Regions from separate parts of the Homo sapiens genome. Here all the other regions are linked to region 1. Evidence: fine-mapped expression QTL. A gene starts in region 1. Each other region holds a variant in brackets. All regions are shown on one strand. Distances are between the middles of the regions.

The links. PIP is the estimated chance that this variant, and not a neighbour inherited with it, causes the effect.
Region 2: its variant is fine-mapped to the expression of CLEC10A in whole blood (TOPMed, PIP above 0.99).
Region 3: its variant is fine-mapped to the expression of CLEC10A in prostate (GTEx, PIP above 0.99).

What each region holds. Positions count from the first base shown.
Region 1 is chr17:7,075,269-7,086,145 of GRCh38, forward strand. It overlaps CLEC10A (C-type lectin domain containing 10A), which reads right to left and starts at 4,983. Exons shown (of 9, transcript NM_001330070.2): 1 at 4,784-4,983; 2 at 3,478-3,617; 3 at 2,729-2,845; 4 at 1,624-1,719; 5 at 1,465-1,536; 6 at 717-803; 7 at 463-617; 8 at 92-198. The coding sequence starts at 3,544.
Region 2 is chr17:7,095,093-7,105,969 of GRCh38, forward strand. It overlaps ASGR2 (asialoglycoprotein receptor 2), which reads right to left. Exons shown (of 9, transcript NM_001201352.2): 8 at 6,998-7,104; 9 at 6,234-6,648. The coding sequence ends at 6,483. Among named protein-coding and RNA genes, the nearest start is that of ASGR2, 14 kb to the right of the region's middle. The variant T/G (reference allele first, on the strand shown) is at 7,206.
Region 3 is chr17:7,106,590-7,112,415 of GRCh38, forward strand. It overlaps ASGR2 (asialoglycoprotein receptor 2), which reads right to left. Exons shown (of 9, transcript NM_001201352.2): 3 at 2,183-2,299; 4 at 1,873-1,968; 5 at 1,247-1,318; 6 at 642-728; 7 at 411-562. Among named protein-coding and RNA genes, the nearest start is that of ASGR2, 5.3 kb to the right of the region's middle. The variant G/A (reference allele first, on the strand shown) is at 3,457.

The sequences.
Region 1 (10,877 bases):
AATTCAGTTCAGGGGAGGAGAGGCTGCCAGTCAGATCCCTGGGGGAAACGCTGACGGAGGACATTGGCACAGAAAGCCAGGGTGCACTCACTGGAAGCCGGTCGCATAGTCTGTTCCATCCACCCACTTCCAGGCTCCTTCAGGGTCACTGAGGCCCATCCAGGTGTATGCGGAGCCTAGATATTTCTGGACAAAATTCTGCGGTGACAGAAGGGCAGTGGTGACTTCTTCCCATCCCAGCCAACTCCTTAAACTAGTGATTCTCAACTTTAGCTCTTCGTTAAATCAACTGAGGAGTTTGGAGATGTTTCTCTGGATGCTCAGGCCTATTAAATCTCTGAGGGTGTGGCACAGATGACAGTCATTCTGGAAGCTCCCAGATGATTCCAATGTGCGGCCAAGCTTAAGAACCATTTCCCTAAATGGGACATGTCTTAGGAACTGAGTACCAGAAGCCCTCACCTGCTCCTCCCTGGAGTTGATGACCACCAGGTGGGCGTTCTTCAGCTGGCAGTACTTCTCAGCCTCGGCCCAGGACATCCCAGAGTGAGAGAACCAGTAGCAGCTGTCTTGGTGCTCCACCCAGTTGACAGGGCAGCAGGTCCCTTCAGTGGAGGCTGATTGGGGAGAAATAGGATAGGGTGGAGAGGCTGAGGCTCTGCCCAGTGGGCCATGGGCAGAAAAGTAGGGCCAGGTACTCCCCATACCTTCCTCACCATTGTTGTTGAGAGTAGCCACCTGGCAGGTCAGTTTCTTCAGGTCTTGCACCAGCTGCTGGACTCGCAGGAGCATTTCAGAATGAACTGGGACACACACAGATGGGCAGTGGGGACAGTGGCCTAGGTGTGCCTTCTGCGTAGTGTGTTCCTGGAGCTCAGATACCCCTGCACAGGGCCAAGCCAGGGAATGTTCCTTCCCGCCCCCACCCACCCCCTACATCATGGCCAGGTACAGCCATCAAATCTGCTTTGGATTCCTCTGCCCCTGTTTCTCCAGCCTGCTCTCCAGAGAAAGCATGCTGCCTTTCTTTCTTTCTTTCTTTTTTTTTTTTTTTTTTTTGAGACGGAGTTTCACTCTTGCTGCCCAGGCTGGAGTGCAATGGCGCGATCTCGGCTCACGGCTACCTCCGCCTCCCGTGTTCAAGCAATTCTCCTGCCTCAGCCTCCCTAGTAGCTGAGATTACAGGCGCCCACCACCACACCCAGCTATTTTTTGTATTTTTTTTAGTAGAGACGGGGTTTCACCATGTCGATCAGGCTGCTCTCGAACTCCTGACCTCGTGATCCACCCGCCTCGGCCTCCCAAACTGCTGGGATTACAGGCGTGAACCACTGCGCCCGGCCTGCATGCTGCCTTTCAAGCTGCTGGCTGAAGGGGAGGGCAGTTCAGCACCAGGAGTCTGTTCCCACCTCCACTGTGTCTGAGCGCCTAGCCCCCCACACCCATACTCGGAGGGTCTCTCACCTGCCTGCCGTTCCTGCTTGAAACCCTCCACCTCAGCTTTCAGAGATGCTATCGTTTCTTCCAAGCTGCTGCCTGGAGGACACGGAGACTTGGCTTAGGGGTCAACTTCCTCCTCCCTGGCCTGGCCCCAGCCCAGAGCCCCATCCAAACCAGACTCACCCTGGGAAGTCAGTGCCTGGATCTCCGCCACAGTGTTTGAGGTGAAGTTGCTAAAATCTGTTCTCAGGGTCACCAGGTCCCTCTGAAATTTGGAATCTAAACAGGTGGATGGGAAGGTCAGTGCTGGGATTCATCAGGTCCTCTGTACCAGCACCGAGCAGGGCCCTCCATAAGCATTGCCTTATTGGGTCCTCACGGCAACCCAGTGGGGCAGGCACTATTATTGTTCAATATTGCCGATGAGGAAACTAAGCCTCAGAGAGGTGAAGTAATTTGAGTACATAACCCAACTACTCAGTGACAAAGCCAGCAGCCATCCTGACTATGGGTCCGTCAACTCTCTCCATCACTACCCCCACCACCGTCCCCATCAATCACTCCATCAGTGCCCCCCCACCATTCCCATCAATCACTCCATCAGTGCCCCCATCACCATTCCCATCAATCACTCCATCAGTGCTCCGACCACTGTTCTCATCAATCACTCCATCAGTGCCCCCCACTATTCCCATCAGTCACCCCATCAGTGCTCCCATCACCATTCCCATCGATCACTGCATCAGTGCCCCCCACCATTCCCAACAATCACTCCATCAGTGACCCCCACCACCATTCCCATCAATCACCCCATCAGTGACCCCCCACCGTTCCTATCAATCACTCCATCAGTGCCCCCCCACCATTCCCATCAATGACTCCATCAGTGACCCCCAACCATTCCCATCAATCACTCCATCAATGCCCCCCACCATTCCCATAAATCACTCCGTCTGTGCCCCCACCACCGTCCCCATCAATCACTCCATCAGTGCCCCCCTACCGTTACCATCAATCACTCCATCAGTGCCCTCTCCTCCATTCCCATCAATCACTCCATCAGTGCCCCATCAGTGCTTCAGTGGCTCTGTTGTGACCCCCATGACTGTTGGTAGCACTGCCCTCACCATGCCCCATTGTTATCTCCACAGCTGCCCCCAACACTGTGCCCTGCATTGCTCCTACTGTGGACCTCACCATCGCCCCACCACTGCCCTACTGTAGCACCCCATTATTTATCTTCTACCCCATTATTTCTCTCTTCCCTGTCCACCCCTGTGACCCTCACTTTGGAATCCAACCACACAGATGATGACCAGCAGCAGGAGGCCGAGGCCCAGGGACAGCAGGAGATGGCAGGGCCCAGAGCAGAGACGCTGCAGGAGGGACTGGAGAGGAAGTGGCCCTGCAAGAGGAGAGAGTGTCAGGATGAGGAGGGTCCAGACACCGGAGACGGGAGAAGGAGAGGGCCCAGGGAGCTGTCTAGTGAGGAGGGCTGGGCACAGGGGACTCCAGGGGAGGGTTGGACAAGGAGGATTTTGGGGTGGGGGATGCCCAGGCCTTTGACTTCAGGGACCAGCACAAGTCCTCAGTCACACAGGCCCCTCACACCCCTGGGGACCCACGTGATAGCGATATGAGGGGTCCCATGGTCAGAGCTGGGGGCAGGGGCAGGAGGACACAGGGAGAGCTGGGGGCAGCCAGCCCTTCATGGGCTTATGCTCACCTACCTGCTGGACAATCAGGTTCACAAATGAGTTTCCTTCCAAACCCAACTACTTATCTTTCCCTCCACCAATGCGCAGCTCTCATCCCCACCCCACAGAGCATCAGAAGCTGGGTCCACTGTGATCCTCCCTGTCCCAGTCTTTCTAGAGACCTTGCATCCTCTTCACACTAGGCCCGTCAGAGGCTGGGGCCTGACCTCCTCAGAGTTAGGACCCACCAGTGCGCGTGGTGGAGGTACAGAAATGATAGGAGAAATCCTTCTAAACATATAAAGAGGGCATTTTAGGAGAGTTTCCCCTTTCCTCTTACCATTTTTAAACCCCTGGACTTTCACCTTATTCTCCAAGTACTGGAAGTTTTCATACGTCCTTGTCATGCTTGGGCCAACACGGCTCTGAGGTTGTCACAGCTGAAATGGAGGCAGGGCCGGCGCCCAGTCTGGGGTGGAGCTGGGGAATAGGAGGTTGGGACTAAGTTGGAGCCAAGGGCAGGGCTGACGTTGAGTTGGGAGATGAGGCTCAGGTTGAGAATGAGCCCAGGGTTAAGACGGAAATGAGCCTGGGTTTGCAGTCGAGTTAGAATTGGGGTCGAGTTGAGTTTGGGAGTGAAACTGGAGGGTAACGTTGGAGCTAAACGCATTGCTAGGACTACCCAGTGGGCCAGTTAATCAGGCAGGACTGGAGGTTGTATCTCATGCTAGGATTGGGGTCAGTATGCACGTTGGAGCCATGGATGGAATTGGGGTTAACTTTGGTGGTGAATTTGGAAACAGAATAGAGTCGAGGTTCAATTTTGGCTTTGGGCTGGTGTTAAAATTCAAGTTGATTCTGGGGTTGGGGTTGAAGTAGGAGCTGGGTGGGGGGCGACAGGTGCGGTGGCTCACGCCTATAAATCCCAGCACTTTGGGAGACCGAAGCAGACAGATCACTTTAGGTCAGGAGTTTGAGACCGGCCTGGCCAACATGGTGAAACCCCATCTCTACTAAAAATACAAAAATTAGCTGGGTGTGGTGGTGTGCGCCTGTAATCCCAGCTACTTGGGAGGCTGAGGCAGGAGAATCACTTGAACCCAGGAGGCAGAGGTGGCAGTGAGCCGAGGTTGTGCCGTTGCACTCCAGCCTGGACGACACAGTGAGACTCAGTCTCAAAAAAAAAGAAAATGTAGAAGCTGGGGTTAGTATTGGGATTAGGGCATGGCTGGGCTGAGATGAAGATAAGGCTGGAAATGGGCCACCAATGAGGCTGAGTCTGAGTCTTAGTTTATTTTTATTTTTATTTATTTATTTTTTGAGATGGAATTTCGTTCTTGTCGCCCAGGCTGTTGTGCAACGAGGCCGTCTCGGCTCACTGCAACCTCTGCCTCCTGGGTTCACAAGATTCTCCTGCCTCAGCTCCCGGAGTCTTAGTTTATGACAGGGGATTGTGGCTGCCGTAACCCAATCTAGAATCCAGTGAAGGGAACAGAGTCTCAAATCTCCACGTAGTAATTAAACCCCACACTGCCGCCTTATATTTATTTTCATTTAGTCCCACCCAAGACCCAAAGTCCCCCTCTCCCTGCTTCCTCTGACATCCCCTGTCCCCTGGGTCTCACCGGCACCGGCAGCACCATTACCTGTGGGAGGTCTGGAGGGTGTGATTCCCACGTTGGTTGTGCTGCAAGGACCAGAGGTGGGACGTCACTCAGAGTTGGGAGCGCTGTGTCCTGGAGAGCTGGGGTAGAGGTGACTGGAGTCCTGCTGGTCTTGGGTCTGAAATCCCAGGAGCCCTATCATCTGGGACATCCCATCTCCTCAACTTTAGACAGTAAATGAGAATGAACAGGGATTAGAACACACAGAGACCATGTGTGGGTGGGGAGAGTTGGGTTTGAGGCCAGCTCTGTTCTCCTCCTCCAGGCCATGCCTACTTCCTTTCCTCTTCTCGGAGCTTCCTCATTTTTACCATCTGGGAGCAGGGCTGGATCAGAGGTACAATCTGCTGTTGCTCCTCTACCCTACACTTCCTTTCACTTCCTGCCTCTACATTTCCCAGAATTGTTGGGTCTCCATCATCGCACCTCTGATCCTAGAGAAGCCCAGTCTGTTCTCTTGCTCAATCCTGGCCTGAGTCCCTGGCATCAGCATCCTCTGGGTCCCAGTCATTCGGCTGCTCAGCTGTGGCCTCGCTCGCCTCACTCCACTCGGAAGGAGGGAAGGGGGTGCCAGAGAATAGAACTTCTTGGCCCTAATAGGACGGGAGAAGCCAAGGAAAAGAGCAAATTTTATTGAGTAATCTGTGATAGGATTATGCCAGACATTTACCTTCCACAACCATTCCCCCCAAGCACCTGGGGAGGCATTTTGGATGACGGACTAAAGGCTCAGAGCCCAAGATCACTCACAGCTTGTAAGGAGACAGTTTGGCACCCTGCTCTGGCTCTCAGCACAGGCGCTGTCTTCATGAACAGGATTCCATTTCATCCCATGATCCCTGCTCAACCCCTAAGGGAGCTGCCCTGAATCCACGCGCACATCCCTTTCAGTAGGAAGGAAACTGAGTATCTTACAAGGTGGAGAAGGAGAAGAAATACATTTTAGGTTATATTTTGTATGTACATGGGGTTGTGTTCTGCTATGTGCTTTTTTTTTTTTTTTTTGGAGTTAACAAGCTATCAGGAACATTTCTCCACATCAGTTTATAAAATGTACTTGATCTACCTGCACCTCATTTCATCATAGGCACCGTAATTTATTTATTTAGCATTTCTCTATTGACAGAAATAAATCAGAAATTTAAGTTGTTTCTTTTTCTTTTCTTTTTTATTTTATTTATTTATTTATTTTTTTGAGACAGAGTCTCACTCTGTTGCCCAGGCTGGAGTGCAGTGACACAATCTCGGCTACTGCATCTCCTGGGTTTAAGCGATTCTCCTGCCTCAGCCTCCCGAGTAGCCGAGATTACAGGTCCCGCCACCACACCCAGCTAATTCTTGTATTTTTAGTAGAGAGGGGTTTCACCATATTGGCCAGGCTGGTCTTGACCTCCTGACCTCACATGATCTGCCCGCCTCAGCCTCCCAAAGTGCAGGGATTACAGGCGCGAGCCACCGCACCCGGCCAGGTCGTTGCCAGTTTTGTTTTTATTTGGTATTCGGTATTTTGATTAGTATATGTCGCAGGTTCGGTTTTTGGAAGCCAAGGTTGAGGCTGAATTTGGGGTACAAGCTATTTATTAGGGATTAGCACTTCGAAAAGGAAAGTGGATGAAATGGTGCTGGGCAGAGGGAGAAGCCCAGCACTTTGGAGAGCTTCAACCAAACCAACAGGGAGCTCTGGGTTCAAACAATGCCACCCCCGGGAGCTGTCCAGCATTGGACTGCCACAGGGTCCTGTAGAGCACCAGCTCCTTCGGTCACTGGCAGTCAGCCCTGACATGGGTGTGACCTCAGGAAGCAGCTGTCTGCAGGTTACACTCCCCACAGTGGGTCACCACATCCTTCCTAGAAGGGGGACCTGGGTAGCTCTCTGTGTGTCTACCACAGTCTTGCAGTGTATTCACATATTAATTTGGAGATAATCAACATTTTGACATTGTTGAATCTTCCATGAAAAGAACATGATATTTCTCCATTCACTAACTTTTTTTTTTCAGTCTGGTTCAGTGGGTTTGAAGCTTCTTTTTTTTTTTTTAGTTCTGGGATACATGTGCAGAATGTGCAGGTTTGTTACGTAGGTATACGTGTGCCATGGTGGTTTGCTGCACCTATCAACCCATCACCTAGGTTTTAAGGCCCGCATACATTAGGTATTTGTCCTAATGCTCTCCCTCCCCTTGCCGCCCACCCCCTGACAGACCCTGGTGTGTGATGTTCCCCTCCCTGTATCCATGTGTTCTCATTGTTCAGCTCCCGGTTATGAGTGAGAACATGCGGTGTTTGGTGTTCTGTTCCTGTGTTACTTTGCTGAGAATGATGGTTTCCAGCTTCATCTATGTCCCTGCAAAGGACATGAACTCATTCTTTTTTATGGCTGCATAGTATTCCATGGTGTATATGTGCCACAATTTCCTTATCCAGTCTATCATTGATGGGCATTTGGGTTGGTTCCAAGTCTTTCCTATTGTAAATAGTTCTGCAATAAACATACGTCCAATCACTCTTATACACATTTATTCATCCATTTGAGTACTTATTGAGTCTACGGCATGCCAAGCACTTTCCTTCCCAAGAGGCAGAGTTCAGGAGTTCAAAAGTAAACAGACAAAAAAGTCCTGCCTTCATAGAGCTTACCTTCTAGTGGGTCACCAATAAACAAAATAAATGAGTAAAATATACATAAGCCACATGGCAATAGTGCTTTGCGGAAAAAGAGCAGGGATATGAGATAGGGTTGATTTTTAATGTCCCTCAAGAATAGGGCATGTATTAGTCCATTCTCACATTGCTCTAAATAAATACCTGAGACTCGGTAATTTATCAAGGAAAGGGGTTTAATTGCTTCGTAGTTCTGCAGGCTGTGCAGGAAGCATGGTGCCGGCCTCTGCTCAGTTTCTGGGGAGGCCTCAGGAAACTTATGATCATGGTGGAAGATGAAGGGGGAGCAGGTGCCTCACATGGTAAGAACAGGAGCAAGAGAAAAGACAGGGGATCAGATTTTAAATGACCAGATCTCACGGCTGTGCGCAGTGGCTCACGCCTGTAATCCCAGCACTTTGGATGGCCAAGGCGGGCGGATCATGAGGTCAGGAGATCGAGACCATCCTGGCTAACACAGTGAAACCCTGTCTCTACTAAAAATACAAAAAATTAGCCAGGCGGGGTAGCGGGCACCTGTAGTCCCAGCTACTGGGGAGGCTGAGGCAGGAGAATGGCATGAACCCAGAAGGCGGAGCTTGCAGTGAGCCGAGATCGCGCCACTGCACTCCAGCCTGGGCAACAGAGCAAGACTCCATCAAAAAAAAAAAAAAAAAAAAAAAGACCAGATCTCACGAGAACTCCCTCACTATCATGAGAACAGCACCAAGGAGATGGTGCTAACCATTCATGAGAAATCCATCCCATAATCCAATCACCTCCTACCAGGCCCCACCTCCAACATCGGGGATTACAATTCAAGATGAGATTTGGGCGGGGACACAGATCCAAACCATACCAGAGTGTCAAGAAAGGCCTCACTGGGAAGGTGATATCTGAGCAAAGTTTGAAGGAGGTAAGGAAGCAAGTCACAAGGGGCTCTGGCAGGAAGAGTGATGCAGGGAGCGGGCAGAGCAAGTGCAAAGGCCCTGAGGTGGGAGAACGTCTGGTGTGTATGAGGATCATCCATTTGACAGACTTGCCAGAGATTTTATAGAGAAGTGAGTCAGGGAGGAGAAGAGTAGATGAGCGATGGGGGAAAATGTGAGCCTTGTTGGCTGTTATTAAGGACTTGTTTTTACTCTGAGTCAGAGATGCAGACTTTGAAGGGGTTGGAGCAGAGGAATGACATAACCTGACATATGTTAACTGTAACGGTGTGGCTTTTGTGTTGTGAATTTGATGAAACAAGCTGGAAACAGAGAGTCTAGGTAAGAAGCTGCTGTCATATCCAGGTGAGAAATGAGGTGGTCAGAAGTGTTGTGATTCTGGATATATTGTGAAGGTAGAGCAGACAGAATTTCGCTGATAAATTGCTTGCGGGTTTCATGAAAAAAATAGTTCTTCTAGTCCCCAAAATAAACTAAACATTGAGCATTTTCTATAAATTGCTGACTCCCTAGAAAAACAACTCTAACCCTGATGTTTGCAATGCTGACGCCTGGGTAGGTCATGACCTTTCGTGCATATGAAAATCATGTGAGAAAAGCGCTGGGTTTTGCCATCATGAGTAGACTGATAAAAACGTGCTCACAATGGTAATCTTGGAGAATTTCCCTTTCAATACTTGTTGTGGTTTTAGTTTGGCAAGCCTGTCCTTCTAAAGCCTGATTTATTTGCCAGGTCTTGGCAAGCAATCTTCTTTTCTTTCCTAAATGCTTCTGTCCCTGAGACCCCTTTCACTGTTGACAATGATCGTTTCCCTCTTCCGCCACATTTTCCGCAAATTCTTACCCTCTCCTAGAACCGCTACTGGTCAGGACTTTTTTTTTTTTTTTTTAAGCTAGGAACAAGAGAAAGCACGCTCGTGCCACCAGTTCTCCATGAGATTCTTCCAGACCATACAGAAAGACAAGTGATTGGAACATATGAAGGTTGAAAGGGAAAGAGAACTGTCATTATTGGTAAATGACATGATTGTCTACTTTAAAAATCCAAGAGAAACAGCCCCTCCTGGGCTCAAGTGATCCTCCCGCCTCAGCCTCCTGAATAGCTAGGACTACAGGCATGCACCACCACACTAGTTAAACATTTTACTGTGTAGAGAACAGATCTCACTATTGTTCCCCAGCCTAGTCTCAAACTCCTGGCCTCAAGCAATCCTCCCACCTCAGCCTCCCAAGGTGCTGGGATTACAGGTGTGAGCCATCATGCCCAGCCTGTGTTCTCTTCGATAATTTTTATAGTTTCAGCTTTGATGTGTGTCTATGATCATTATGAATTAGATTTTTTCATATATATACAGTTGTTCCAGCACCATTTATTGAAAATACTTTTCTCCATTTAATTATTTCTACCTATATAGTTGATAGAATTCATCAGAGACGTCATCTGAAACTGGATATTTTCTTTGTTGAAAGATTTTAAATTGTGAATTTATTTGAATTCAGGAAAGTCTGTTCAGATTTCCTATTGCGTTTTTAGTTTTGGTAATGTGTATCTTTCAAGTAATTTTTCCATTTTATTCTATTTATGGGCAAATTTATTGGCAAAAAGTTGTTCATATTATCCTTTTGATGTATGTAGGAGCTGTATTTATATTTTCTTTCTTTTTTTTTTTTTTGAGATGGAGTCTCACTTGTCGCCCAGGCTGGAATGCAGTGGCGCCATCTCGGCTCACTGCAAGCTCTGCCTCCCGGGTTCACGCCATTCTCCTGCCTCAGCCTCCCGAGTAGCTGGGACTATAGGCGCCCGCCGCCACGCCTGGCTAATTTTTTTTTTTTGTATTTTTAGTAGAGACAGGGTTTCACCATGTTAGCCAGGATGGTCTCGATCTCCTGACCTTGTGATCTGCCCGCTTCGGCCCCCCAAAGTGCTGGGATTACAGGCGTGAGCCACTGCGCCCGGCCTTATATTTTCTTTCATTCTTAACACTGGCAATTTGGGGGTTTGTTTGTTTGTTTTTGAGACAGAGTCTCACTCTGTTGCCCAGGCTGGAGTGCAGTGGCATGATCTCGGTTCATGCAGCCTCTGCCTACCAGATTCAAGAGATTCTTGCGCCTCAGCCTTCCAAGTAGCTGGGATTACAGGCGTGCGCCACCATGCCCAGCTAATTTTCGTTTTGTTTGTTTGTTTGTTTTTTGAGACAGAGTCTCGCTCATTGCCCAGGCTGGAGTGCAGTGGCACGATCTCGGCTCACTGCAAGCTCCGCCTCCCGGGTTCACGCCATTCTCCTGCCTCAGCCTCCCGAGTAGCTGGGACTACAGGCGCCCGCCACCATTTTGTATTTTTAGTAGAGACGGAGTTTCACCGTGTTAGCCAGGATGGTCTCGATCTCCTGACCACGGGATCCGCCTGCTTCGGCCTCCCAAAGTGCTGGGATTACAGGCGTGAGCCACCACACCCGGCCAATTTTCGTATTTTTAGTAGAAATGGG
Region 2 (10,877 bases), 20 kb after region 1:
CACGTAGCATTCCACAGTGGTCCCAGTGGTGTCTGCATCTTATAAGGCTACCATCAGGCCTGGCAGGGAGATGCTCGTGTTATCCCCTGGCAGACAACCACTGTCTCTACAAACAGTTCCCTTGCAACTCTATTATCTCACTGATAGAGGTTTAAAGAAGCATTCCCCTTCCTGTGGAGGGAAAAAGTGTTGAATCCCTTGCTACACATCTAAGAATTCCCTTGAGGCCGGGCGCGGTGGCTCACGCCTGTAATCCCAGCACTTTGGGAGGCCGAGGCAGGTGGATCACTTGAGGTCAGGAGTTCGAGACCAGCGTGGCCAACATGGTGAAACCCTGTCTGTACTAAAAACACAAAAAGGAGCCAGGCATGATGGCGGGTGCCCGTAATCCCAGCTACTCAGGAGGCAAAGGTAGGAGAATCACTTGAACCCAAGAGGTGGAGGTTGCAGTGAGCCGAGATCGCGCTACTGCACTCCAGCCTGGGTGACAGAGCAAGACTCCATCTCAAAAAATAAAAAAACAAAAAAGAATTGCTTTGAAACAATCCCCTTAAATCTCCATTCATCTTTTGCGTAGCCTGGGAAGAGTGATGGTGATTATGTTGCCTCTCTTAGTTAGTCCTGCCTACATGCATCCAGCTTTTCTCTGTTTTAAATGGGCACTTACCAATGATCATTCTCAACTTTGGGAATCTAGCCAAATCTCTATAACAACAGGAAAAGTGTCATTTAACCTCCCTATTTCTTGTGGTCATGTCACTTTTCTCAGTTCCTTAATTGGGCTTGCCAAGATGTTGTTTACCATATTAGTCTTTTTGGAAAGGGGTTTTTGTTAAGAGGATAACATGACAAGCTACAGACTTGGAGAGAATATTTGCAAACCACCTATCCAACAAAGGGTTAGTACCTAGAATATATAATGAATTATCAAAACTTGACAGTGAAAAAACAAACAATCTCAATTAGAAAATGGGCAGAAACCTGGGCACAGTGGCTCACGCCTGTAATCCCAGCACGTTGGGAGGTCGAGGCAGGCGGATCACCTGAAGTCAGGAGTTCGAGACCAGCCTGGCCAACATAGCAAACCCCATCTGTACTAAAATACAAAAATTAGCCGGGCGTGGTGGCGAGCACCTGTAATCCCAGCTACTCGGGAGGCTGAGGCAGGAGAAACACTTGACCCTGGGAGGTAGAGGTTGTGGTGAGCCGAGATCGCGCCACTGCACTCCAGCCTGGGTGACAAAGCGAGACTTTGTCTCAAAAAAAAAGAAAGAAAGAAAGAAAATGGGCAGACGACATGAAGAGATGTTTTACCAAAGAGGATAAGCAGATGGAAAATAAGCACATGAACGAATGTACAACCTCATTAGCTGCCACAGAAACGCAAATTAGAACCACAGTAATGTATCACTATATATCTATCCAAAGAGCTAAAACTTTAAAATACTGACAACAACCAGATACAGGTGAGGAAGTGGGCAAACTGGATCATTTATACATTGCTGGTGGGAATATAAAATGGTACAACCACTCTGGAAAACAGTTTGGCAGTTTCTTTTAAAAGTAATCATGCACCCACTATATGACCCAGAAATTGCACTCAGGCATTTCTCCCAGAGAAATAAAAATGTGTGTTCACACAAAAACTTGCACATGAATATTCATAGCAGCCGTATTTGCAACAGCCAAAGACTGGAAACAACCCAGATGTCCTTCAATGAGTAAATGGCTAAACGAACTGTGGTACGTCTATCTATACCATAGAATAGCGCTCAGCAACAGAAAGAAATGAACTGTTGACGCATGCAACAACTTGTAAAAATCTCGAGGGAATTACGTTGAGTTTGAAAGTCAATTCCATGGCCGGGTCCAGCGGCTCATGCCTGTAATCCCAGCACTTTGGGAGGCCGAGGCAGGTGGATCACGAGGTCAGGAGTTCAAGACCAGCCTGTCCAAGATGGTGAAACCCCATCTCTACTAAAAACACAAAAATTAGCCAGGCGTGGTGGTGGGTGACTGTAATCCCAGCTATTCAGGAGGCTGAGGCAGAGAATTGTTTGAACCCGGGAGGTGGAGGTTGCAGTGAGCCAACATCGTGCCACTGCACTCCAGCCTGGGCGACAAGAGCAAGGCCAATTTATCACTTTTAGAGAGGCGATGTGATCATTGCTGAACCATCACCCAACATTTCTAGTGGGCGGGAAAGCCCCCTCCTGCCCACTCATGCCTGTCTAACTACCTGTAACAACCCTGGAAACCCAGCATTCTGGGAGGCCGAGGCAGATGGATCGCTTGAGCACAGGAGTTTGAGACCAGGAGGCTCAAACTGGTCTTGAACCAGAAGGCCTTCTGGTCTTGAACCCAGTTTAGTGAGACCCTATCATTATAAAAAATTTAAAAATTAGCCAGGCGTGGTGGTATGCACCTATAGTCCCAGTTACTTGGGAGGCTGAAGTGGGAGGATCACTTGAGCCCAGGTGTTTGAGGCTGCAGAGAGCCATGATCATGCCACTGCACTCCAGCCTGGGTGACAGAGCGAGACTTTGTCTCAAAAAAAAAAAAAAAATATATATATATATATATGTGTGTGTGTGTGTGTGTATACACATATATATGTATATGTACACATACAATTTATATATATATGTATATATAGCATTTTCTAGATTCTGTGATGTTTCTGGTAGCTCTCTGCTTTTGAAATTTGTGACTTTTTAAATTTAAATAAATGGTAATTTTTATGCTTAATTTTATATCCATAATTTTGTAATTGTTCTTACAGAGGGCTCCCCAAAATTGTGTACACCTCAGGCCCCATAAAACTTGGAATCACTTCTCTGGCTCTAGGAAAAAGTACACCAAGTACAACTAAAATACTGATTATACGACTGGTTTGCACGTCTGGAAAAATTATATTGTCAAGCTTTTTACAGTTCAGGAAGACTCAGCAATAAGTTAAAAGAATATGAGGCAAATTTTTTTAATGGAATACTGACTACTTTCAGAAGAAATGAGAGTTGTGCAAGAAAGGGAATGTAATCAGATTATAGTAGTTGACTCAGCAGTAACCATATTGACACAGATACAACTGATACAAATTTTAAAGTAGTATTTAAATATAAATTGTAGACTACATTGGAAGATTTTACCTCGTTTACATGATAGCGACTAAATAATGTCTACAACTCATACGAAGATGAAATATCAGTTTGTGTGTCTTACTTAGAACTGCAGATGTCAGTACTAGAAGAAACAGCTAGAATCACTGAAAGCAGTTTCTCCAGGCAGCAAGAGGAGCTAAAGGGGGCAGGTCAAGTAACCTAGAGCCCTGTAAAACTTCTAGTTTTATAGACTTTATACTTCTAGTTTTATAGACTTTATAAAATTTCTACTTTTCTATAAAAATTCTAGTCCTATAAAACTTTAGAGTGTATTATTACTTCCATAATTTATTTTTTGAGAAAAGATCTCGCTGTCTTACCCAGGCTGCAGTGTAGTGACACAGTCACAGCTCACTGCAGCTTCAATTTCCTGGGCTCAAACTATCCCCTCATCTCAGCCTCCCAAGTAGCTGGGACTGCAGGGATGCACCACCACATCCAGCTGGGGTGTGTGTGTGTGTGTGTGCATGTTGTACAGACTGGGTTTCGCCATATTGCCCAGGCTAGTCTCAAACTCCTGAGCTCAGGCGACCCACCACCTCAGCCTCTCAAAATGCTAAGATTATAGGCATGAGCCATTGCACCCAGCCTATTTTCACGGTTTTTTAAATTTAATCCCAATCGTGTACATTTTGAAGGGGCAATCCTAGAAAATTTTTCAACTGAAAAGTGGGAAGTCTTGACCTATCCCAAGCTTATGAGCAAAAAAATTACTTTGAAACATTCTATGTGAAAACAAAGAAACAAAAGTGGTAACTACTTGCCCCCTACAGAGAATGATTACATAATGCATGGTACATCCCTACTTTGGAATTCTCTACAGCTGCTAAATCCAAGGAGGTAAAACCTGCCAGGTAATGGCATAGATTAGACTGGTGTCCACGAGACACTGTGAAGCGGAACAGGCACTATGTAATGACATAATATTGCATCTACTCATGTACACAGGAAGGGCTCTGGCAGGGGACACAGGAAAGAGTTGACTCTGGGGAGACGGAGGAGGACTGAGAGGACACTCGTGTGCGTGCGTGTGTGTGTGTCATTTAAAACATTTTTTTACTAATAGAATGTATTACTTCTGTACTTTAAAAATTTAAAAATATGGGGCCGGGCCCCGTGGCTCATGCCTATAATCCCAGCACTTTGGAAGGCAGAGGCGGGCGGATCACCCGAGGTCAGGAGTTCAAGATCAGCCTGGCCAACATGGCGAAACGCTGTTTCTACTAAAAATACAAAAATTAGCTGGGTGTGGTGGCGCATGCCTGTAATCCCAGCTACTCGGGAGGCTGAGGCAGAAGAATCGCTTGAACCCGGGAGGTGGAGGTTGCAGTGAGCCAAGACCGCACCATTGCACTCCAGCCTGGGCAACACAGCAAGACTCCAACTTAAATAAATAATATAACCGCTGAATAGTCTTTTTAAGGTCAGTTTCAGAATGTTCTTGGAGCGGGAAGTTTGCCCACTGTGGAGATTGTTGGTGACACCCTGTGTTGAAGATATGTCTAGATCCGCTTGGGGTCAAAAAGACAGAGCCACGGTGGTGAGAAAGTGACTTACCCATCCTCCTCCTCGTCGTGACCATTTTCCTTGAAGGCTGAGAGTGGAGCTGGGGTATGCCCTGCGACCCGGTCTGGGGAGAACCCAACCGCAGAGAAAGATGTTTCCTTTGGGAGCCCTGGTGTGTCCGGAATTGGTGGGTTCTTGGTCTCACTGACTTCAAGAATGAAGCCGCGGACCCTCGCGGTGAGTGTTACAGTTCTTAAAGGCGGCGTGTCTGGAGTTTGTTCCTTCTGATGTTCAGATGTCTTCAGAGTTTCTTCCTTCTGGTAGGTTCATGGTCTCACTGGCTCAGGAGTGAAGCTGCGGAACTTCGTGGTGAGTGTTACAGCTCTTAAGGCAGTGTGGACCCAAAGAGTGAGCAGCAGCAAGATTTATTGCAAAGAGCGAAAGAACAAAGCTTCCACAGTGTGGCAGGGGACCCGAGTGGGTTGCCGCTGCTGGCTGGGGCAGCCTGCTTTTATTCTCTTATCTGGCCTGATTGGTGCGTTTACAATCCCTGAGCTAGGCACAAAGGTTCTCGACTTCCCGACCAGAGTAGCTAGATACAGAGTGTCAATTGGTGCATTCACAAACCCTGAGCTAGACACAGGGTGCTGATTGGTGTGTTTACAAACCTTGAGCTAGATACAGAGTGCCAATTGGTGCATTTACAATCCCTTAGCTAGACATAAAGGTTCTTCAAGTCCCCACCAGACTCAGGAGCCCCGCTGGCTTCACCCCATGGATCCTGCACTGGGGCCGCAGGTGGAGCTGCCTGCCAGTCCCGCGCCCTGCGCCCGCACTCCTCAGCCCTTGGGTGGTCGATGGCACTGAGCGCGCCCTGGAGCAGGGGGCGGCGCTGGTCGGGGAGGCTCGGGCCGCACAGGAGCCCACGGAGCGGGGGTCGGGGAGGCTCAGGCATGGCGGGCTGCGGGTCCCAAGCCCTGCCCCGCGGGAAGGCAGCTAAGGCGTGGCGAGAAATTGAGCACAGCAGCTGCTGGCTCAGGTGCTAAGCCCATCACTGCCCGCGGCCGGTGGGGCAGGCCGGCCACTCCGAGTGCGGGGTCCGCCGAGTCCACGCCCACCCGGAAATCGCGCTGGCCCGCAAGCGCCGCTCCCTCCACACCTCCCTGCAAGCTGAGGGAGCCGGCTCCGGCCTTGGCCAGCCCGGAAAGGGGCTCCCACAGTGCAGCGGCGGGATGAAGGGCTCCTCAAGTGCCGCCAAAGTGGGAGCCCAGGCAGAGGAGGCGCCGAGAGCGAGCGAGGGCTGTGAGGACTGCCAGCACGCTGTCACCTCTCACTGGGAGCCAGGCGGACCCTCCAGCCACAGCCCGGCCGACCCCTTTCCCACCAGTGCCAGCCACTAAGCCTGTCTGCTCCAAGCCCCTTTCCCGTTTCCCTGACCAATGTCCCTCGGGATTAGGGACCAAGGAGCAGCTGTCTAGGATGCGCGCCTTGCGTCTTCCATGCCCTCCCCTCTCCCTCCTCTTTGCATGCTGTTTCTCAGTTCCCAATAACCAGGCCACACAGAGATTCAAGCATTTGTTTCTTCTTTCCTACGCCATTGAAGAGGCTGACGATTATAATAATTACAATGAATTACAGAAGGAGGTGGGATCTCAGTCCTCCAGGGTCAGGGACTCTTAAACTACCTCCTTTCTCTCTTTGCTCAGCTCTTCCCCATACCCCTGTCTCAGTGTTTCTTCCTTTCCTCAAAATCCTCAACAGAGAAGCCAGAGCTGGGCAGGTGTGGGGTATGGGTTAGCCAGAGGTGTGCTGGGGTCAGGCCACCTCGCCGGTGGCATTCCGCCTTTTCTCACACACCCAGCGGTACACCTGCAGGCAGAAGTCATCGTTCCAGCGGCCATCCGGCTGGACTTCAACACAGTCTTCACTTCCACCCAGCTCGTGCCCGTGCCAATTATCTGGCTGAGTGACAGCCCAGTTCCTAAGGAGGCAAGAGAAAACTCGGACTCTGCCACGGTGGTGAGAAAGCGACTTACCCATCCTCCTCCTCTTCATGACCATTTTCCTTGAAGGCCGAGAGTGGAGCTGGGGTGTGCCCTGCTACCCAGTCTGGGGAGAACCCAACCGCAGAGAAAGATGTTTCCTATGCCCAGTCCCAGCAACCCTCACCCCCAGCCCAGAAGAGCACAGCTTTGGAGGGGTTGGAGTCTGGGGAGGAGAGGATTGGGGAATTTGGTCCCTGAGGGACGAGTCAGGGTAGCTTGGAGTGAAAGGCCAGGGGGCTGTCCCCAGAGAAATCTAACAAGGAGATGAGGGAAGAGGCCACTTACTTGTAGTTGTGCCTATAGTCTGTGCCATCCACCCATTTCCAAGAGCCATCACTGTCCGTGAGACCTATCCAGGTATTGAAGGGGTTCGTGTGTTGTACAATGAATTTCTGGAAACACAGGCAAACAGGAAATTTCTAGTCTCTTGTGCCTTTCTCCTCCCTCCATGCAGGCATGGAACTGTGGCCCCTCTCAGCCTTCCCCAGCCTGA[T/G]CTGCCCTCAGGCTGAAGCACCAGCTCCCGACAAGACTGCTTCCTAGCTTTTTCTTCCGTCACTCTAGCTACTGTTCAGTGCACATTTGCTAGGCTAGACTTCGTGCTGTCTGTGCAAAGATGATCTCATTTAATCCTCAGAAGCTCTCTAAGATGGGCACTGCAGTGACCACATTTTGCAGGGAGTTGCAGAGCCAGAGAGCCAATCCTGTACCTGAGTTAGTGGCCACTGTCCCCTGTTCACAGCCCTGGGCCGGTGTCCCCCTTCATTCCCAGCTTATGGCTCTACCCAAGTTCCGGTTCTCTCCCTGTCTTCTGCCCACAGCCTCGAACTCCTGGGATCCCGACCCTGGTCCCTGCTCTTACTGCCCCCCAGACCCCAGACCCACTGAAGATCTCAGTTTCACTGGCCTCTCAAGTACATTGGCCCCTGGTAGCTCTCGCTTCTATGTGTAGCTGTCATTTCCTGAGATCTGTCAGGCCCGGGAGCTTCTAAGCTTGGACCCACTGCCCAGGGCCCCATTATGATCTAGCTACGTGGAGTCTGACAATCGGGGCAAAATAGGAAGACACCGGGGTGTGAGGAAGCAGCCCGGACAGCCAGTTGCCAGGGGCTTGGGTGAAAGTGGACTTCGAGCCTGCAGATAGCTCCCCGGGACCCACGCGCACCCACACTCCCAGCACGGTAGCCCCTCCAAGTGGCTTTCTCTTACACATACAGCTGTTCCTGGGGACCTAGGTCCCGTGGTTCGGTAGGGTAGGAGGGGAAGGTGTGGTCACCTGGTTTTGTGGAGAAAGTGGAGAGGGATGGATCCGTTGAGCAACGTGCACACTTAACAATTCCCTTTGACAGCCTGGAATTTTCCTTCCAACAGTATTTGAAGGACAATTGCCTAATTCTACTCTCACTCTCTAGAAAAACAACTAAGGTTGCAGTTATTCACCTCTTCCGATTGAGCATCAGAAACTGGGGCATCCCTAAATTCTGGAATCCCACAAATAGGACAAAGTCCCATGCATGAAGGGGCAGCCCTCAGAGGCAGGTGAGGCTGCTCCCCAAATTCAGAGGAGTCAACGGAGTTGGAGAGAAAGTGCCTGGAGACAACACACACTATGTGCTGCTACCTGCTGCCAGCCCTCCCTCCCATCACCACGAGAAACAGAACAACTGAGCAGACTACAAATTAGCAGTATCCAGCCCGCCGTGTTAAAGACTGAGAGGAGGAATCAAATCATGCCAGATGATCAGAGAAGACAGTCCGGGAGAATTCATTCCCCCTTTCCTGGGTGAACCATAGGAAAGAAAGCACTGTGCCCATTCACAAAAGTAATGGAGAAAATCATCATGGAACTTATGCCCCCAAAAAGAAAGAGGAAGATGAGGCAGATGAAAAATGAACTGTGATATCAAAAAGAGAGGTGAAAAATAGACTTTGAAAAGAAGCCTTGTTTCGGAATATGAGGGGATGTTGGAGAACAGTTTCTTTTTTATTATTATTATACTTTAAGTTTTAGGGTACATGTGCACAACGTGCAGGTTTGTTACATATGTATACATGTGCCATGTTGGTGTGCTGCACCCATTAACTCGTCATTTAACATTAGGTATATCTCCTAATGCTCTCCCTCCCCGCTCCCAAGAACAGTTTCTTTACATGCTTCAAAAATTTTAAAAAGAATGACATAAAACATGAAAGAAGATATAAAAAAAAAAGAGAACATGATAAGGAAAGGAAATGAAAAGTTTGAGCTACATACTAAAAAAAAAAGCCCAGGTGTGGTGGCTCACGCCTGTAATCCCAGCACTATGGGAGGCCAAGGCAGGTGAATCACCTGAGATCGGGAATTGGAGACCAGCCTGACCAACACGGAGAAACCTCATCTCCACTAAAAATACAAAATTAGCCAGGCGTGTTGGCGCATGCCTGTAATCCCAGCTACTTGGGAGGCTGAGGCAGGAGAATCGCTTGAACCTGGGAGGCGGAGGTTGTAGTGAGCCAAGATCGTGCCATTGCACTCCAGCCTGGTCAAAAAGAGCAAAACTCTGTCTTAAAAAAAAAAAAAAAAAAAAAAGCCAGGCGTAGTGGCTCATGCCTGTAATCCTAGCACTTTGGGAAGGCCAGGCGGGAGGATCACCTGAGGTCAGGAGTTCAAGACCAGCCTGGCCAACATGGTGAAACCTTGTCTCTACTAAAAATATAAATATTAGCCAGGCATGGTGGCAGGCACCTGTAATCCTAGCTACTCGGGAGACTGAGGCAGGAGAATTGCTTGAACCGGGAGGCAGAGCTTGCAATGAGTCGAGATCGTGTCACTGCACTCCAGCCTGGGCGAAAGAGCAAGTCTCCATTTCAAAAAATAAAAATAAACAAAAAATTTCAGATAAAACACTTGAGGGGCCGGGCGTGGTGGCTCACACCTGTAATCCCAGCACTTCAGGAGGCCAAGGCGGGCGGATCACGAGGTCAGGAGTTCAAGACCAGCCTGACCAACATGGTGAAACCCTGTCTCTACTAAAAAATATAAAAGTTAGCCAGGCACGATGGCGGGTGCCTGTAATCTCAGCTACTCGGGATACTAAGACAGGAGAATTGCTTGAACCTGGGAGGCAGAGGTTGCAGTGAGCCAAGATCGCGCCATTGCACTCCAGCCTGGGCGACAGAGCAAGACTCCATCTCAAAAAAAAAAAAAATTTTTTTTTTTTTTCAGATACAACACTTAAGGAACCTAGGAAAGGAAAGACTCAGACACATGGGAATAAGAGGTATCCTGGTCTCCTCACCTTTCCTATGGAAGTTATACAAACTTTTAGTTTTCAAAGCCAATAATTTTCAGCCTATTATTTAAAGTTATACAAGTAATCACTGGAATAACTCTAAATAAACTACATAGTTTCCAAAATACCATAAAGAAGAAAACAAAAAGAACACCTCTCACATAGCAATTGTAAGAAAATTAAGAAGCATGTAAAGCAGAAAAAAGAAAGGACTAGGGTTAAACATATCTATTAGAATGTAAATGAGACACTCACCTATTAAAAGAAAAGGTACTTATTAGATTTTTAAACATCAAAAACAAAACCTGCCAGGTGCAGTTTTTGGATTACAGTGGCTCAGACACCTGTAATCCCAATATTTTGGGAGGCCCAGGCGGGCGAATCGCTTGAGGCCAGGGGTTCAAGACCAGCCTGGGCAACATGGCACAACACCATTTCTACTAAAAATGCAAAAAACTACCCAGGTATGGTGGTGTGCACCTGTAGTCCCAGCTACTTGGGAGGCTGAGGTGGGAGAATCCGTTGAGCCCGGGAGGCACAGGTTACAGTGAGCTGAGATCATGCCACTGCACTCCAACCTGGGCGATAGAGCCAGATCTTGTATCAAAAACAAAACAAAACAAAAAACCTATATAGGAGAAATACCTTAAGCTTAGCTGCCCTGTGCTGCCCCTCAGGGAATGGTCCAGGATGAAGCCAAGATTAATTTAAATTAGCATTTTTTTTTTTTTTTGAGTCAGAGTCTCGCACTGTCACCCGGGCTGGAGTATAATGGCGCAGTCTCAGCTCACCACAACCTCTGCCTCCCGGGTTCAAGTGATTCTCCTGCCTCAGCCTCCTGAGTAGCTGGGATTACAGGCACCCGCCACCATGCCCGGCTAATTTTTGTATGTTTA
Region 3 (5,826 bases), 29 kb after region 1:
AACTACTGTGGCATTAAAATACTTTGAAGTTCAGCCAGACGCGGTGGTTCACGCCTGTAATCCCACCACTTTGGGAGGCGGAGGTGGGCGGATCATGAGGTCAGGAGTTCCAGACCAGCCTGGCTAAGACGGTGAAACCCCGTCTCTACTAAAAATACAAAAAAATTAGCCGGGCATGGTGGCACGTGCCTGTAATCCCAGCACTTTGGGAGGCCGAGGCAGGAGAATGGCGTGAACCCAGAAGGCGGAGCTTGCAGTGAGCCGAGATCGTGCCACTGCACTCCAGCTTGGGCGACAGAGCGAGACTCCATCTCAAAAAAAAAAAAAAAATGGATAAAATAAGCCTGATCCAGCCTCCCAGAGCAGGCCTTCCAAGGGCTTCCTCCTGCCTGTGGGAAGCGTGGCCTCACCTGCTCCTCCCAGGAGTTGATGACCACCAGGTGTGCGTTCTCCAGCTGGCAGTACTTCTCCGCCTCAGCCCAGGCCTTCCCGGAGTGAGAGAACCAGTAGCAGCTGCCTTGGTGCTCCACCCAGTTGACGGGGCAGCAGGTCCTTTGGGAGCCTGAGGGGACAGGGGGCAGGGAGATGAGATCCAGCCGGAGGGGCAGGCACACTGGGCCTGGAGACGGCCCCACCCCTACCGTTGCTGTGGAGGAGCTCCATCTGGCAGGCCACGAAGCGCAGGTCCACGGGGAAGTGCTTCAGATGGAAGAGCAGGGCATCGTGATCTAGGACAGACAGGCTGAAAGTGCTGCCGGCAGGTGTGGTCCCCACCTGCTAGGCTCCAGCCTGTGGCTGGGGAAGCATATACACCCACAGACACGTACACCATGCATAGACCACACCACACACCATACCACACACACACCACAGACATGTACACCACACATAGACCACACCACACACAGATCCATCACACACACACAAACACACCAAGAGACACACCACACACATCACATGCGTACACACACATATACCATACCGCACACACACAGACTCATCTCACACACACCACCACACATGCATACACACACAACACACACATATACACCACACTACACACCACACACAGATCCATGACATATCACACCACACATACGGAGAGAGACACAGATACACATGCTTGCAGGCACACACACGCACGCACGCACACGTGCACACTACACACACCGCACACGTACACACTACACACACCGCACACGTACACATGCACGCACATGCGCACACACCCCGGAGGCTCTCTGACCTGCTTTCAGGTCCTGCTGCTGTTTCTCCAGCTTGGCTCCTAGGGATGTGATCTTGTCACCCACGCTGCCTCCTGGAAGCGGAAAGCCAGCTGTTTCCCCGCTGAGCCTCCCTCCGTCCTCATGCTGCTGGGGGACCGGGGGCCAGCGCCTCGTCCTGGGCGATGCAGGCGTCCACCTCCTGGCTTCCTGGACCACACCCAGGCTCCCTGCACTGCCACAGTGGCTCAGGCCACTCTCCTGCTTCAGTCCCTTCAATGGGTCCCCATTTTCTCAAAATAAAGCCTCGCTCTGTCAGCACGGCTCACCTGCGTGGCCGGGCCCCTCCCCACCTCTCTCTGGCCACCCCTTACCTGCCTGCCCCTCCGATGGGCCTGCCACACTCGATTTGCTCACAGGCCCAAGACATGGTGCCTTCCTCACCTCCGGGTGTCGCAGATCCAACCTCTCCACCTGGCACTAACCTCGTCCGTCCCCACCTGCCTCCCTCCTATACATCCCCCAGGGCCCCTGGACGCCTTGCCCAGCCTGCACCCCCACGGCACCCCACACAGCCCTGTTGCAGACTCGGCACTGAGCCCAGCAAACCTGTGCGGATAAATGAGAACCCAGCCGTCCAGCCCCTCACCGTGGGTGCTGATTGCCTGGACCTCCGTCAGGGTGCTCGAGGAGAAGTTGCTGAAAGCTTCCTTCAGGCTCCGCAGCTCGGCTTGCAGCTGTGCACCTTGTCAGGTGGTAGTGGGGGCAGGATGAGGCAGAGGGGCCGTGTCCCCATCACTGTCCATGTGACTGGCCCCTCAATGTCCCCGCATTTGCCCCAGCTTGTGCTCCACCCCGCCTCCATCCCTTCCCCTCCCATCGCCCCGATCGCTGCCCGCCACTGCCCATGTCTCTTTCCCTACCCCTTGCCCATCCCTGCTGGCCCCCGTGACCCTCACTTTGGGACCCAGTCACACAGATGACCACCAGCAGCAGGATGTTGAAGCTCAGGGCAAGCAGACTGAAGCAGACCATGGAGCAGAGACGCTGTGCCAGGGGCTGGGCAGGAGGTGGCCCTGTGGGAGAGGGGCATCAGGAGCCGGCAGCCTGGGTGTGGGGAGCCGGAGGGTAAAGACAGGGCACCGAAGCCTGAGGAGGCATAACCTGGGCGGGGGGATTGGTTGGGGCCATGGGGGGGGGTCATCATAGGCTTTGACCCCAGCATTTGAGCATTACACACACACTCTTACACACTCGCACCCATATTACCATGTATAAATATACACACGCAGCTAATCTGGTGCACACACACCCATGCACACGACTCAGGATATTCACATCAGCTGTGTGCAAAGCCCGGATCCTGGAGCTGGGGGACTGGGAGACGCACAGGGGGCGGGGGGGCAGACCCGGCCCTGCCTAGGCACACATCCTGAGAAGGGGGATCTGTGAATGGTTTTCCTCCCATCCAGCCAGTGGCAGAGGCCTCCAGATCACCTCGGGCCTTAGTCTCAGCTCTTCTAAGGCTCCTGTCCCCTCAGATTGGAGACTCCAGAAGCTGGGCCCTGTGTTCTTCCTAAAATCCATACTGGAACAGTCCCTCCCCTGCCAAAATTCCATTGAGATCCTTAAATCTGGGTCATTCCACCATAGCCCACTCTCCAAGCACAACCCTCCAGGTCCCACCTGTTGTCCTCATCCCCCACCACGCAAGGCCTCCTCCCCAGCGCCCTTTGCCCTCGCTTCCCTAGAAACCTCGTTCCACACTAAATTTGCTCCCCTCAGCCCGAGGTCATCTCACAGGTACCTCTCCTGCCCCTTGATCCATCTGCACCCTGACAGCACTGACACACACATTCACATGCCCTCACAAACTCACACACACTCACACACTCACACATTGCTCACTTCACTCAAAAACACACATTTGCACACACTCATGACCACGCTCTGCTGTACCCACTCTCACATGTGCATATGCATGCTAATGCACACATTCATACTCCCTCCCACACACACACACCTGACACACCCACACACGTACACTCACACACCCACGTCTTCCTGCACACAGAGCTGGGCTCCCTCTCTGCTGCCTCCAGACCCAGAGCAGCTCCAGTTGTCCCAGCCCTGAGCTCCTCTCTTTGCAGCATCCACCTGCAAACAGAACACCTTCTAGGCCTTGGACCCTGACTCTGTGGACTTCCTTGTCTTCTCATTCCTATCACCCCCC[G/A]ACCCAGCAGGACCACATCCTGGGGAGGCTCAGTCAGGGGCCCAGAATCTTCCTCCCCAGGTCACTTCCTGCCACTGTCCTGAGTCAGACACTGCCCCTGTAAGTGACTGTCCATAACTCTTCATCTTTTTCACACCAGTGACTTCCACCTTCCCCACTGCAGCCACACTCAGGACCCCATTTGACCCAGGGAGGCCTCTGACACCTCCACTGCCCACTCCCGCTCTGAGCACAGCCCCACCCTCCCTCTCACTGCCCCCACCCCTTCCTCCAAGGCCTTTGCATTCCTCTCCATCCAGAAGCGCTCCATGACCACGGTGTTCCCCACCAAGCTGGCCCTCCATGGCTGAGTCCCTGACTGCTGTCTTCAGCACCCTCCACTCAGAGGGTCCTGTCCTGCTTCCCAGTCCGACTTATCAACTCCCAATGCTGGGTCAGCCCAGCAACGTGTCTGTATATCCACCCTGAAACCAGACTGCCCACAGGGTAGCCCAGCTGTGCCTCCAGGTAGCTCTGAGATCATGCACCAGCATTCAATTTCTCCATGCTTCCATTTTCTCGTGTGTAAAATGGAGATCACAGTCGTAGCTACCCGATTGGATTGCTCGGATAATTAGATGAGTTAAAATATGTAATGTGCTTCTTAGGCAAAAGTTTGAACATAAAAGACAGGGTCTGCCCAAGATGGGAAGAGTTCTTCTCTCCCCAGAAACAATCAAAACAAAAACAGACAACTATAGAACATGGCAGCTTTCAAGACTCTGGACATCAGGCAAGGAGGAGTAAAGATCCCTGAGGGATAAGAAGCAAACAACAGGAACCCTCCGATCACCCCAGCTTACTGTTTGGAGAGAGTCTGCAGGTTACAGGCCAGGAAAGGGAAGTCCAGGCAGAGCCCAAGAGACTCCCCACGTTGAGGAGATGGAGCTGAGAGTCCGAGGAGACCAAAACAATTAAGAGTTCAAACGATCAAACTGACTCTAAGTTGCTTAACTGCATCCCGGAGCAAAGCTCAAGAACATTTAGAGGAATACAAAAATATCCAGCACCCAACAAGGTGAAATTGACAATGTCTGGCAGCCAATCAAAGATTACAAGGCATGCAATGAAACGGGAAAACACAATGCATAACGAGGAGGTTCATAAATATCAAAAGAGATCCAGAACTGACACGGATGCTAGAATTAGCAGGCAAGGATGGTAAAACAGATATTATAGCCATATCCCATTATGTTCAAAAAATTAAGTAGAATTGTGGAGGATATTTAAGAGTCCCCAGGTGAACTTCTAGAGATAAAAACTACAATGTCTGAAATGAAAAAACACACTGGCCAGGCGCCGTGGCTCACGCCTGGAATCCCAGCACTGTGGGAGGCCAAGGCGGGCAGATCATGAGGTCAGGAGATCGACACCATCCTGGCTAACATGGTGAAACCCCATCTCTACTAAAAATACAAAAAATTAGCCAGACGTGGTGGCAGGCGCCTGTAGTCCCAGCTACTCGGGAGGCTGAGGCAGGAGAATGGCATGAACCCGGGAGGCAGAGCTTGCAGTGAGCCAAGATCGCGCCACTGCACTCCGGCCTGGGCAACAGAGCGAGACTCCGCCTCCAAAAAAAAAAAAAAGAAAAGAAAGAAAAGAAAAAACACACTGGATGGAAATAATGGAAGATGAGAAATGCGTAAGAAAAATTTAGGGCCAGGCACTGTGGATCACATCTGTAATCCCAGCACTTTGGGAGGTCGACACGGGGGGAATCACTTGAGCCCAGGAGCTCAAGACTAGTCTGGGCAGCATGGCAAAACCCCTCTACATGGCAAAACCGTCTCTACAAAAAAAAATTTTTAATTAGCCAGGTGTGGTGCCACATGCCTATAGTCCCAGCTACCTGGGAGGCTGAAGTGGAAGGATCGCCTGAGCCCAGGAGGTGGAGGCCACAGTGAGTTGTGACAAGCTACTGCATTCCAGCCTGGGCAACAGAGTGAGATGAGAGAGAGAGAGGGGAGGGGAAGCGAGGGAAGGAAAGGAGGGGAGGGGAGGGGGAGGGGAAGGGGAAAATTTTAGTTAACTTAATGAACAGCAATAACTCTATAAAATGAAACACTGGGAGAAAAAAGAATTAAAAAATGGAAAGAGAATGAGTGAGCTGTGGGACCCTTAATACATGCATAATTGAAATCTTTAAAAGAAAAAGGGGGTAGCAGAAAAAAATCAAGTGCTGAGACAAGTGGAAGATGGGCCCCGGTGAGCAGCTGATCAGTGTCAGCTCCCATGATGACGTTCCCCCAGCCCCCACCACCCGGGCTGCTGGAGGGAAATGCGGTGACTTTGCTACATCCCTTCAGACGGTCCCTCACTGGTGTCCCTCAG